Homo sapiens: one gene and its partner. The protein of the gene in region 1 purifies or fractionates together with the protein of each later gene. This does not show direct contact. Each region holds a gene or a part of one and is shown in the gene's direction. Other genes may lie near its edges.

Evidence for each region. The genes of interacting proteins can lie anywhere in the genome.
Region 2: the proteins of PRIM2 (region 1) and POLE fractionate together in Homo sapiens (co-fractionation; one large-scale study listed by BioGRID). This does not show direct contact.

The regions. Positions count from the first base shown.
Region 1 is NC_000006.12:57,533,242-57,538,349, forward strand, and holds part of PRIM2 (DNA primase large subunit), read left to right. Parts: intron 1-4,198; coding exon 4,199-4,384; intron 4,385-5,108. UniProt on the Homo sapiens protein: Regulatory subunit of the DNA primase complex and component of the DNA polymerase alpha complex (also known as the alpha DNA polymerase-primase complex) which play an essential role in the initiation of DNA synthesis.
Region 2 is NC_000012.12:132,645,070-132,649,342, reverse strand, and holds part of POLE (DNA polymerase epsilon catalytic subunit A), read left to right. Parts: coding exon 1-37; intron 38-270; coding exon 271-414; intron 415-4,273. UniProt on the Homo sapiens protein: Catalytic component of the DNA polymerase epsilon complex. Participates in chromosomal DNA replication.

The DNA.
Region 1 (5,108 bases):
ATACTTGTAGAATTTCTCTTTAATACATAACAGCATTTGCACTCCATACACAAAGGGAAAATAAGCCAGCCATAAATAATCTTGGGTTAGACAACTACCAAATTATTCACAATAAATTAAAAATACACAGGGATTTTAATGCTTGGAAACAAGAACTGTAATAAGACTAGTAGAGAAAGAACGTGAGTTTGGATCAGAATGAATAGGTCGTCTTCCATTTGAAAAATTATAAAAAAGTACTTGCAGTTAATATGTCTAGAAATAACAGTAGGGTTGCCTACTTTACACAGTTGATTTGTTGATTTGAAATTTGTTCTCAAAGATGTCCCATCTTTTAATTTTTTTATTAAACACTTATCTCTAACAGTCCACTTTCTCACTTCCACTCATGTGATTTGTGCTTATATAATGTGAATGGTTGGAGGTTAATTCTGTTCTTAGTTCTAGCTAGATGTTTCCCTATTCACAAGCAAATGTGAATTTCATTGGATACTGTTGGAGTTCATAGAAATATTAATTCATTTAATGGATATGTATTGAGCCCATCAGTTATGTAGCAGCCATTGTGCTGTGGATACAGAAGTGAGGAAAACAGAAAATGTCCCTGCCTTCATGGACCTTACATGAGGGAGAGGGACAACATAATAAATAATAAATGAGCAATATAATGTTAAGTGCTATGATGATGATCCTGTCATGGGTCTGTGCCTGAGACCCCGTGGTGAGTAATACAGATGTATCTTTTTCTGGACTGCCTCCTAACTCTGTATCTATATTGTTTGATCTTCACAACAGCATGTCATTTGCATATCCCTTGGTATTTGCAACTCTTCTCCAAATGTTTTCTTTAGTTTTTTCTTCTAACAAATCTGGCTTTCTCAATGCTGTTTCCGCTGTGGGCCTCTTCAAGTAGAGACAACTTTCCCCCCGAGTTCATATATAGGTATGCGGTGAGTGTCTTTCTTGGTCCGCATTTCTCTGCCTTCCATTGTTACAGCTCCAGCTCCTTTAAAGCCCTTGTGATCTTATTATATCATCTGATACCTCCTTTGTTGCTATTCGACCCCCTCCCCCCACACCTGTATTCGTTGATGATTTGAACACCTAGCTAATGGTCTTGTGTACTGGCGCTATTGTTGTTATTGTTCTTGGCCTCTGCAAGATCCAAGTTGATAATTTATCCCCTATCCTGGACTTATGATTCTTTTGTTTGCTTGTTTTCCATGATCATTTTTCTATCTGTATATAGCCAGACACTATCTTTTTAATTTTTATTATTTGGACTACTGCCCACACCTCTTAAGTATCCCTCCTGCTTCCATTCTTACTCTCATATAGTCTTTTCACTACATAACAGCCAGAGTTCTCTTTGTGTATTGAATCACATCAGTCTTCTGGTCAGAACCCTCTAGTGGGTTTTTATCATATGTAGACTTAAATCCAAACTCATGTTGTGGCCTCTGAAGCCATATGTGCTCATCATTTCTATTTTATCTTCTGCTCCATTCCGGCTCATTCACTTGCTCTGGTCACATGGATCTTATTCTCTCTTTTAGCACACCACATTTATTCCTTCTCAGGATCTTCATTTCACTAGAATCCAACTTACTTTGTCTTACTTGAAATGCCATCTCCTCAAAAAGGCTTCCCTGGCCACCCAAATTGAAGTACCTCTCCCCTAATCACACTTGATTTCATTTCTCTATTTCATTTCCAGTGTTTTGGCATCAGATGTTATCTTTTTAATGTCTGTATTCATTGTCCGTCTCCTCCTATTAAAAATAAGCTCTTCGAGGACAGGGTTTTTGACTTCTTTGTTCACTACTGGTTCCCCAGGGCTGTACACATAGTAAGTGTTAAATAAATATTTGTTGATTGAATGAATAAGAAGTAATCAAGGAATGTGCCAAAAGAAATAGAAATTGAGGTGGGTCTTGAATGATGACTTGGCTTTGGCTACATGGCATGTGCATGAGAAGGGTGCACCAGGCAGGGCTAGCAGAGTGAGAAAAATGAGAAGCTACAGAGCATGACTGCGTGGTCATGGGATATTGAATAATCCAGTGGACTGGAGCCGAGGACTCATTTTGGTGTAGTAATAATATACTGGGCTTTCCCAGGCTCCCTGTCACAGTGCTTCTGTGGTGCTCAAGTTTTGCCCTTGTTGGAGCCCTCATTTTATCATTTATTTCATGTGTTTAACTTACATAGTAGTGAATATAATAATTGTGGTGTCTTTTTCCTTAACTGAATTAAAGGGGACAATTAGGTCCTAGCTTATTTTCCAGAACACTTAATAAATAATTGTTCTGTTATGTATAATTGAAAAGTAGTTATTGGCCAGGCGCAGTGGGTCATGCCATCTGCAATCCTAGCACTTTGAGAGGCCAAGGTGGGAGGATCACCTGAGGTCAGGAGTTCGAGACCAGCGTGGCCAACATGGTGAAACTCTGTCTCTACTACAAATACCAAAATCAGCTGGGCATGTTGGCAGGCACCTGTAATCCCTGCTACTCAGGAGGCTGAAGCAGGAGAATCGCATGAACCTGGGAGGCAGAGGTTATAGTGAGCCGAGATGGCACTGCTGCACTCCAGCCTGGGCAACAGAGTGAGATTCCATCTCAAAAAAATAAAAAAAGAAGAAAAAAAAAGAAAGGTAGTTACCAGATATTGAGGAAACCTTGCATGTTCATACTAAGGATGTTGAATATTGATTGTATGGATTAGAACAATGTTTAGAAAAAAATCAGATATTAATATGAAGGAACAAAAATGGTCTCATGAAAAGGAGCTGAAAGGCTTTCTAGTTAGTTCTAGATATAGAACCAAGGGAGGATATAGGTCTGAATGAACTAGACTGGGGATGGAAAAAATCAGAAGTTGTTACTGTAAAAGAATGAAGAGAAACTAGATGGTCACTAGAGGGAGCAGCAAAGTCAAGCAAAGTGAGACCTGCTCTTTCTTATAGATGAAGTGAACTTGCTAAGGCATATGTGAGGGAGTAAGAATTTAAGTCTTGGGAGGATATTTAAGGAAGTCATAGAGAATGCAATTGAAACCGTAAGTGAAAAATTAAAGTAGGCAATGATATTTCATTTTTGGCACTAAGGCACTAACTACACTTTGTTCCTTTTAACTTGGTTTCTTTAACATATTTATTTGAATTTTCCTTATGAGAAGTTTCTCTTATTTTTGTATTCTGCTTTGTATTTGAGTTATCTTAAAAGTTCATCTGCTATTCAGCAATTGTACTTTTATCTCAGGGAAATGAAATCTTATGTTCACATAAAAACCTCTTCAAGAATGCTTATAATACCTTCATTTGAAATAGCCCAAACTGGAAACAACCCAAGTGTTCTTCAATGAGTGAATAAATAAATTATGATACATTCATACCATGGAAAACTATTAGTAATAAAGAAATGAGCTTATATACAACTTAGATGAATCTTGAGGGAATTCTGCTGAGTAAAAAATGACAATCTCAAAACAATACATATTATATGATTCTATTATACTCTTGAAATGACAAAATTATAGAGATGGAGAACCAGATCAGTGGTTGCCAAAGATTAGGGAGCTGAGGGAGGGGAGCAGGGTGCAAAAGATAGATGGGGGTGGTTATAAAATCATGAGAGATCCTTGTGGTGACAGAACTGTTCTGCATGTTGACTGTGGTGGTGGATGTATGAACCTACATGTGACAAAACTGTATAAAATTTAATACGGAAGTAAGTGCATGAGTACAACTGAGGAAACCTGAATAAGACTAGTGGATTGTATCAATGTCAGTATCCTGTTTGTGATAATCTACTGTAGTTGTATATGATTTTATCTTTGGGGGAATTTGGATATATGCTATCTCTTTGTATTATTTCTTGTAACTGTATGGGAGTCTGTAGTTAACTTCAAAGAAAAAGTTTAATTAAATTAAAAAAACAGGTAAAATAAATTTTAATAGTATGTTATTTAATCCAAAGTATCTAAAATATTATATTAACTTGTAACCAGTAAAAAATGTTAATAAGAAACATCTTATACAGATAAGAGTCATCTGTAACCACAGTAATAAAGTGGCACTTTCTTATGGTGTTTTTTTTTTATTCCAATTAAATTGAATTAGGAACCATAACAAATATTACAGGGGACCTGATAAGTCTTCCACTTAACTTAAAACTCTACTATTTTTTTCTTGTAGCTTTCTACCAAATCCTTCCCACCTTGCATGCGTCAGTTACATAAAGCCTTGCGGGAAAATCACCATCTTCGTCATGGAGGCCGAATGCAGTATGGCCTATTTCTGAAGGGCATTGGTTTAACTTTGGAACAGGCATTGCAGTTCTGGAAGCAAGAATTTATCAAAGGAAAGATGGATCCAGACAAGGTAATTTTGAAAAAAAATATCAGAGTGGTACCTGATATTTTAATTTGGTCTGAAAATGAAACGGTCTATTTTTTTTTTTAAATATGCTCCCTGCAATGTAGTTGAAAATTCTAAAAGGATAAATGTGTTGACAATTCAGTTTAGATAAAAAGAAACTTGCATATTAATCTAATACAAAAGATTGGGGAAGGAATGTTTTCATTTGTAGGTATACTGCCAGTAGTAATTATAAGACTGAAATTGCTTTCAGAGTTATATATCTGTAGGAATGTATGTGTGTCTATACATATGCACATAATGTTTTGAGCACTGGGAGATATCATGAACAAATAAAATGGAACAATTTAAAATATTTTCTATTATGTTATGCAGAATCTTTTATAAACTTTTGTTTTTTTTTTTCGAGACAGGGTCTTCTTCTGTTGCCCAGGCTGGGCTGGAGTGCAATGGTGCAATCATGGCTCACTGCAGCCTCGACCTTTGGGCTCAAGTGATCCTCCCACTTCATTCTTCCCAGTAGCTAGGGCCACAGGTGGACACCATTATGCCTGGCTAATTTTTTTCTTTTTTTAATTTTTTGTAGAGATGGAGTCTCACTATGTTGCCCAGGTTGGTCTCAAACTCTTGGGCTCAAGCTGTTCTCCTGCCTTGGCGTGCTGAAGGGTTGTGATTACAGCTGTGAGCCTGAGTCATCATACCTAGCCTATAGAACATTTTTAGATGG
Region 2 (4,273 bases), on another chromosome or scaffold:
CCGCAGCATCCTGGACCTTCCGTGGCAGATTGTGCAGGTATAGACCTTGATCCAAGGGGAGGGCAGTGGCTCTGCTGATGGCCCAGGGAGGGGGTGTCCAGCTGGGCCCTGAGGTCTGGGATGGGAGGGTTAGAGTGGGCCTGGAGTTTCCTGCCCATCGTAGGGAGGCCTAAGGCCCTGTGCTGGGAGCTGCAAGCTACCTGGAAGGTGGCCCCGTCTGTGGGTTCCAGTGTGTCCTGTGATGTGCTGTATGTCCGTGTGGCCTTTCAGATCAGCGAGACCAGCCAGGCCGGCCTGTTCAGGCTGTGGGCGCTCGTTGGCAGTGACTTGCACTGCATCAGGCTGAGCATCCCCCGTGTGTTCTACGTGAACCAGCGAGTCGCTAAAGCGGAGGAGGGTGCTTCGTATCGCAAGGTAGGGAGGAGCTGGTGCTGCCTCTGCAGTCATCTGGGCAGCCTGAGGTGGCTTTCCCATGATCTAGCCTGGCCTCCAGCCTCCATCTCCTCAGTACCTTATGGGGATGTTCTAGGAATTCCTCAAAACAACGTGTGTGAGCGCTGAGCACCGAGCCTGGGGCAGAGCGAGTGCCGGGAATGGAGCTGCTGGTGTCCTTGTCACGATGAGCTTGTCTGCCCGCGAGGTCCATGTTGCGGGGACAAACCAAGTGGCATTGGTTAGAGATTGTGAACTCTGTCTCCGTAGGCTCTTTGGTTGTTAACAGCTTTATTGGGATGTAAAGTTACGCCATCCAACTCACCCATTTAAAGTGCAGAATTCAATGACTTTTAGTGGCATGACTATTGCCAGTCAATAGTGACATTTTCTTTTTTTTTCTTTTTTTTAATTTTACTTTGATTTCTGGGATCCATGTGCAGAAAGTGCAGGTTTGTTACATAAGTAAGCACATGCCATGGTGGTTTGCTGCACCCATCACCCCGTCACCTGGGCATTAGGCCCCACATGCATTAGCTGTTTATCCTGATATTCCCCCTCCCCTCACCCCCCCATTCGGATATTTTCATCACTCCAAAAAGAAACCTGGCATCCCTTACCTGTCACCATCCTCCCCCAGCCCTCAGTAGCCACTGATCCACTTCCTGTCTCTGGGTTTGCCTGTTTGGGCATTTGATGTAAATGGAACCCTACAGTAGGTGGGTCTTTGTGCTGGGCTTCTTCCACCTGCAGAAACTGCGAGGGTTTTCATGTGGCCATGAGTGCGCTGAGGCTCTTAGATGGCATCTCCACCCGAACTCCCCGTTGTTAATGTGTCGGCTCAGCACATTTCTTGACTGGATGCTGTGAATCACGTAAGAAGTGACACGTAGTTGGGGAGATGAGGTGTGCATATTTGTACCTACACAAGGAGGTTTTCTGGAGAAGGTGAAACTCGATTCCAGCCAGGTGATTCAGTAGAATGTGCATATAGAAAGTAGACGCAGAGCCAGGTGTGGTGGTTCACACCTGTAATCCCCGCACTTTGGGAGACCGAGGTGGGCGGATAACAAGAGGAAAGCGGACGCAGAGGCATCGAGACCACAGAGAACAGGTGGGACTGTGGGGTTTCTACACCTTCCTTTCGATGCGTGGTGCTGTGGTGCTGTGGCCGTGTGGAAGTGCCCTAACTTTTGGGATGTTTCCCTTTATGACTATCAGCTCATCTCGAGGGAGGTTCTGGCGCTGTGTGAATATTCTGTCCTCAACGTTTGACTGGATGGTGTCAGCATCCATGTCTCGTGGGGTCCATGGGGCTCCAGGATGATATCTTCAGATTCTGTTCCTCTGTGTGTATTAGCTGTTTCCTTTATAACGAAGAGCTTTGTGCAGATCAGGTAGAAATGAACTCTATTCCTTAAAAAGCAAGATACGAGAGGGATAATACGCTTTTTTTTTTTTTAAGCAAGATAAATGCTTTTTCCCTTTAAATTATTTTTAATTTTCAAGGTAGGGCATGGCAAAATGGGTTTATTCCTTTCATTTTTCCTCTCTTTTTAAAGTATTACTATGGATTAGAGGATTTTTGTTTAACTTTTTTGTTTCTGTTTTTGAGAAGGTCTCTCACTCCATCACCCAGGCTGGAGTGCAGTGGCATGATCTTGCCTCACTGCAGCCTTGTACTCTTGGGCTCAAGCAATCCTCCTGCCTCAGTGTTTAATGTTTTAACATCAACCGTAGCCAAATCCCGCCCAACACACACACGTTAGGTATGTTAAGGTACACGGTAGGCCCTCACTTTATGTTGTTGATAGGTCCTTAGAAACTGCAATTTTAAGTGAAATGACTAAGTAAGATGATGTATAATGAAACAGATTTTTTTTCTTCTCAGAAACTATAATGAAACTGTGTTGGCCAGGCGCAGTGCTGCATATCTGTAATCCCAGCAATTTGGGAGGCTGAGGCTGGTGGATTGCTTGAGCTCAGGCATTCGAGACCAGCCTGGGCAACGTGGCAAAACCCCTTCTCTACAGAGTATTTTTTAAATTTATTTATTTTTATTTGTTTGTTTGTTTGTTTTGAGATGGAGTTTCTCTCCTGTTGCCCGGCTGGAGTCCAGTGGCGCATCTCGGCTCACCGCAACCTCCGCCTCCCGGGTTCAAGAAATTCTCCTGCCTCAGCCTCCCAAGTAGCTGGGATTACAGGCACGCACCACCACGCCCGGCTAATTTTGTATTTTTTAGTAGAGATGGGGTTTCTCTGTGTTGGTTAGGCTGGTCTCGAACTCCTGACCTCAGGTAATCCATCCACCTCGGCCTCCCAAAGTGCTGGGATTACAGGTTGAACCATGGCGCCCGGCCCCAGAATTTTTTTTTTTTTTTTTTTAAAGGAAGAAAGAATGTTGAACAAAATGATGTTATTTGAGGACCTGCTATACATTACTTCACTTAACCATCACAGTTTCCAGGAATCCATTGATGTTAAGTGAGGACTTACTGTAATTTACATATAGTTAAGTGCAGATTTTTAAATGTGCAGTTGATTGGGTTTTTGGACACATGACTATGCCTGTGTCACCCACACCCCCACCCAGGTGCAGAACGTTTCCATCACCCGGGAGGGTGCTCTTGTCCCCCTGTGCAACCTTCTGCTGGCCTGATTTCTGTATTTCTGTAACTGTGTGCATGTGACTTTCTAGAACTTCATATTAATGGAACCAGACAGTAGACTCTTTGGTGGTCAATATCTTCTTGAGACTCAAATTATCCCAAATTGGGCTGGCCAGATCCCTTCAAGCTGGCACCTGAGTCCTTTTGACATGCCCTGTTGGTCTTTGAAAACTTCCTTGCTTTTTGGCCACTAAGAGAGGCCAGGCTCACCTTGAACTTCCAGACGTGGAATTAGCTGTTCCTCTAAAGAGCCTGAGCCTCGTTGAGAGGTTATGTTGAGAAACCAAGCTTAGAGCTCAAGGGGTATCATTTCATCTAGATTCCTTCAGTGAACAGCCAGGAAATATATACATTTTAAAAAGTGCAATTACACTAATTGTTCCAGTTCATATTTACCAGAACATAATTTTTCATTTCTTTGATTTTGTGTGTGTGTGTGTGGGTGTGTGTGTGTGTCGGTCTAATTTCATGTTACTGGAAAAATCTAACCCTACTGGTTCTCTTCTCGCTTGAGAATTATTCAGATTTTCCTGGTTGTTGTTACGCCAAATAACGCTTTATTGCAACCTGGACATTTTACATATTTGAGACTTTGGGTATTTTTAAAAATCCTTTAGCGTGTCAGGTTTTTTTGTTTGTTTGTTTTAGCAACAACCAACACGGTTAATTCCAGTGCCCAAGCTCTTCCTTGCCTCTTTGTGCAAAGCTTCCAATGTCAGCTCAGCCTCCAGAGCCTCTGCTGCGTTGTTTTGGGTCACCTGTGCAAGTGCAGCTCGTAGTGAGCCTGGGACTTGTGCTGCTGGTTCATGCATGAAGCTAGGGTGCTCCTCTCCAGGATTCCCCCAGCCCCCCACACACGAAGCTAGGGTGCCCCCTCTCCAGCTCTCCTCTCCAGGATTCCCCCAGCCCTCCACACAGGGAGCTAGGGTACCCCTCTCCAGCTCGCCTCTCCAGAATTCCCCCAGCCCTCCACACAGGGAGCTAGGGTGCCCCCTCTTCAGCTCTCCCAGACCCCCCAGGACCCCACACAGGAAGCTAGGGTGCACCCTCTCCAGCTCTCCCAGACCCCCCAGGACCCCACACAGGAAGCTAGGGTGCCCCCTCTCCAGCTCTCCCAGACCCCCCCAGGACCCCACACAGGGAGCTAGGGTGCCCCTCTCCAGCTCTCCCAG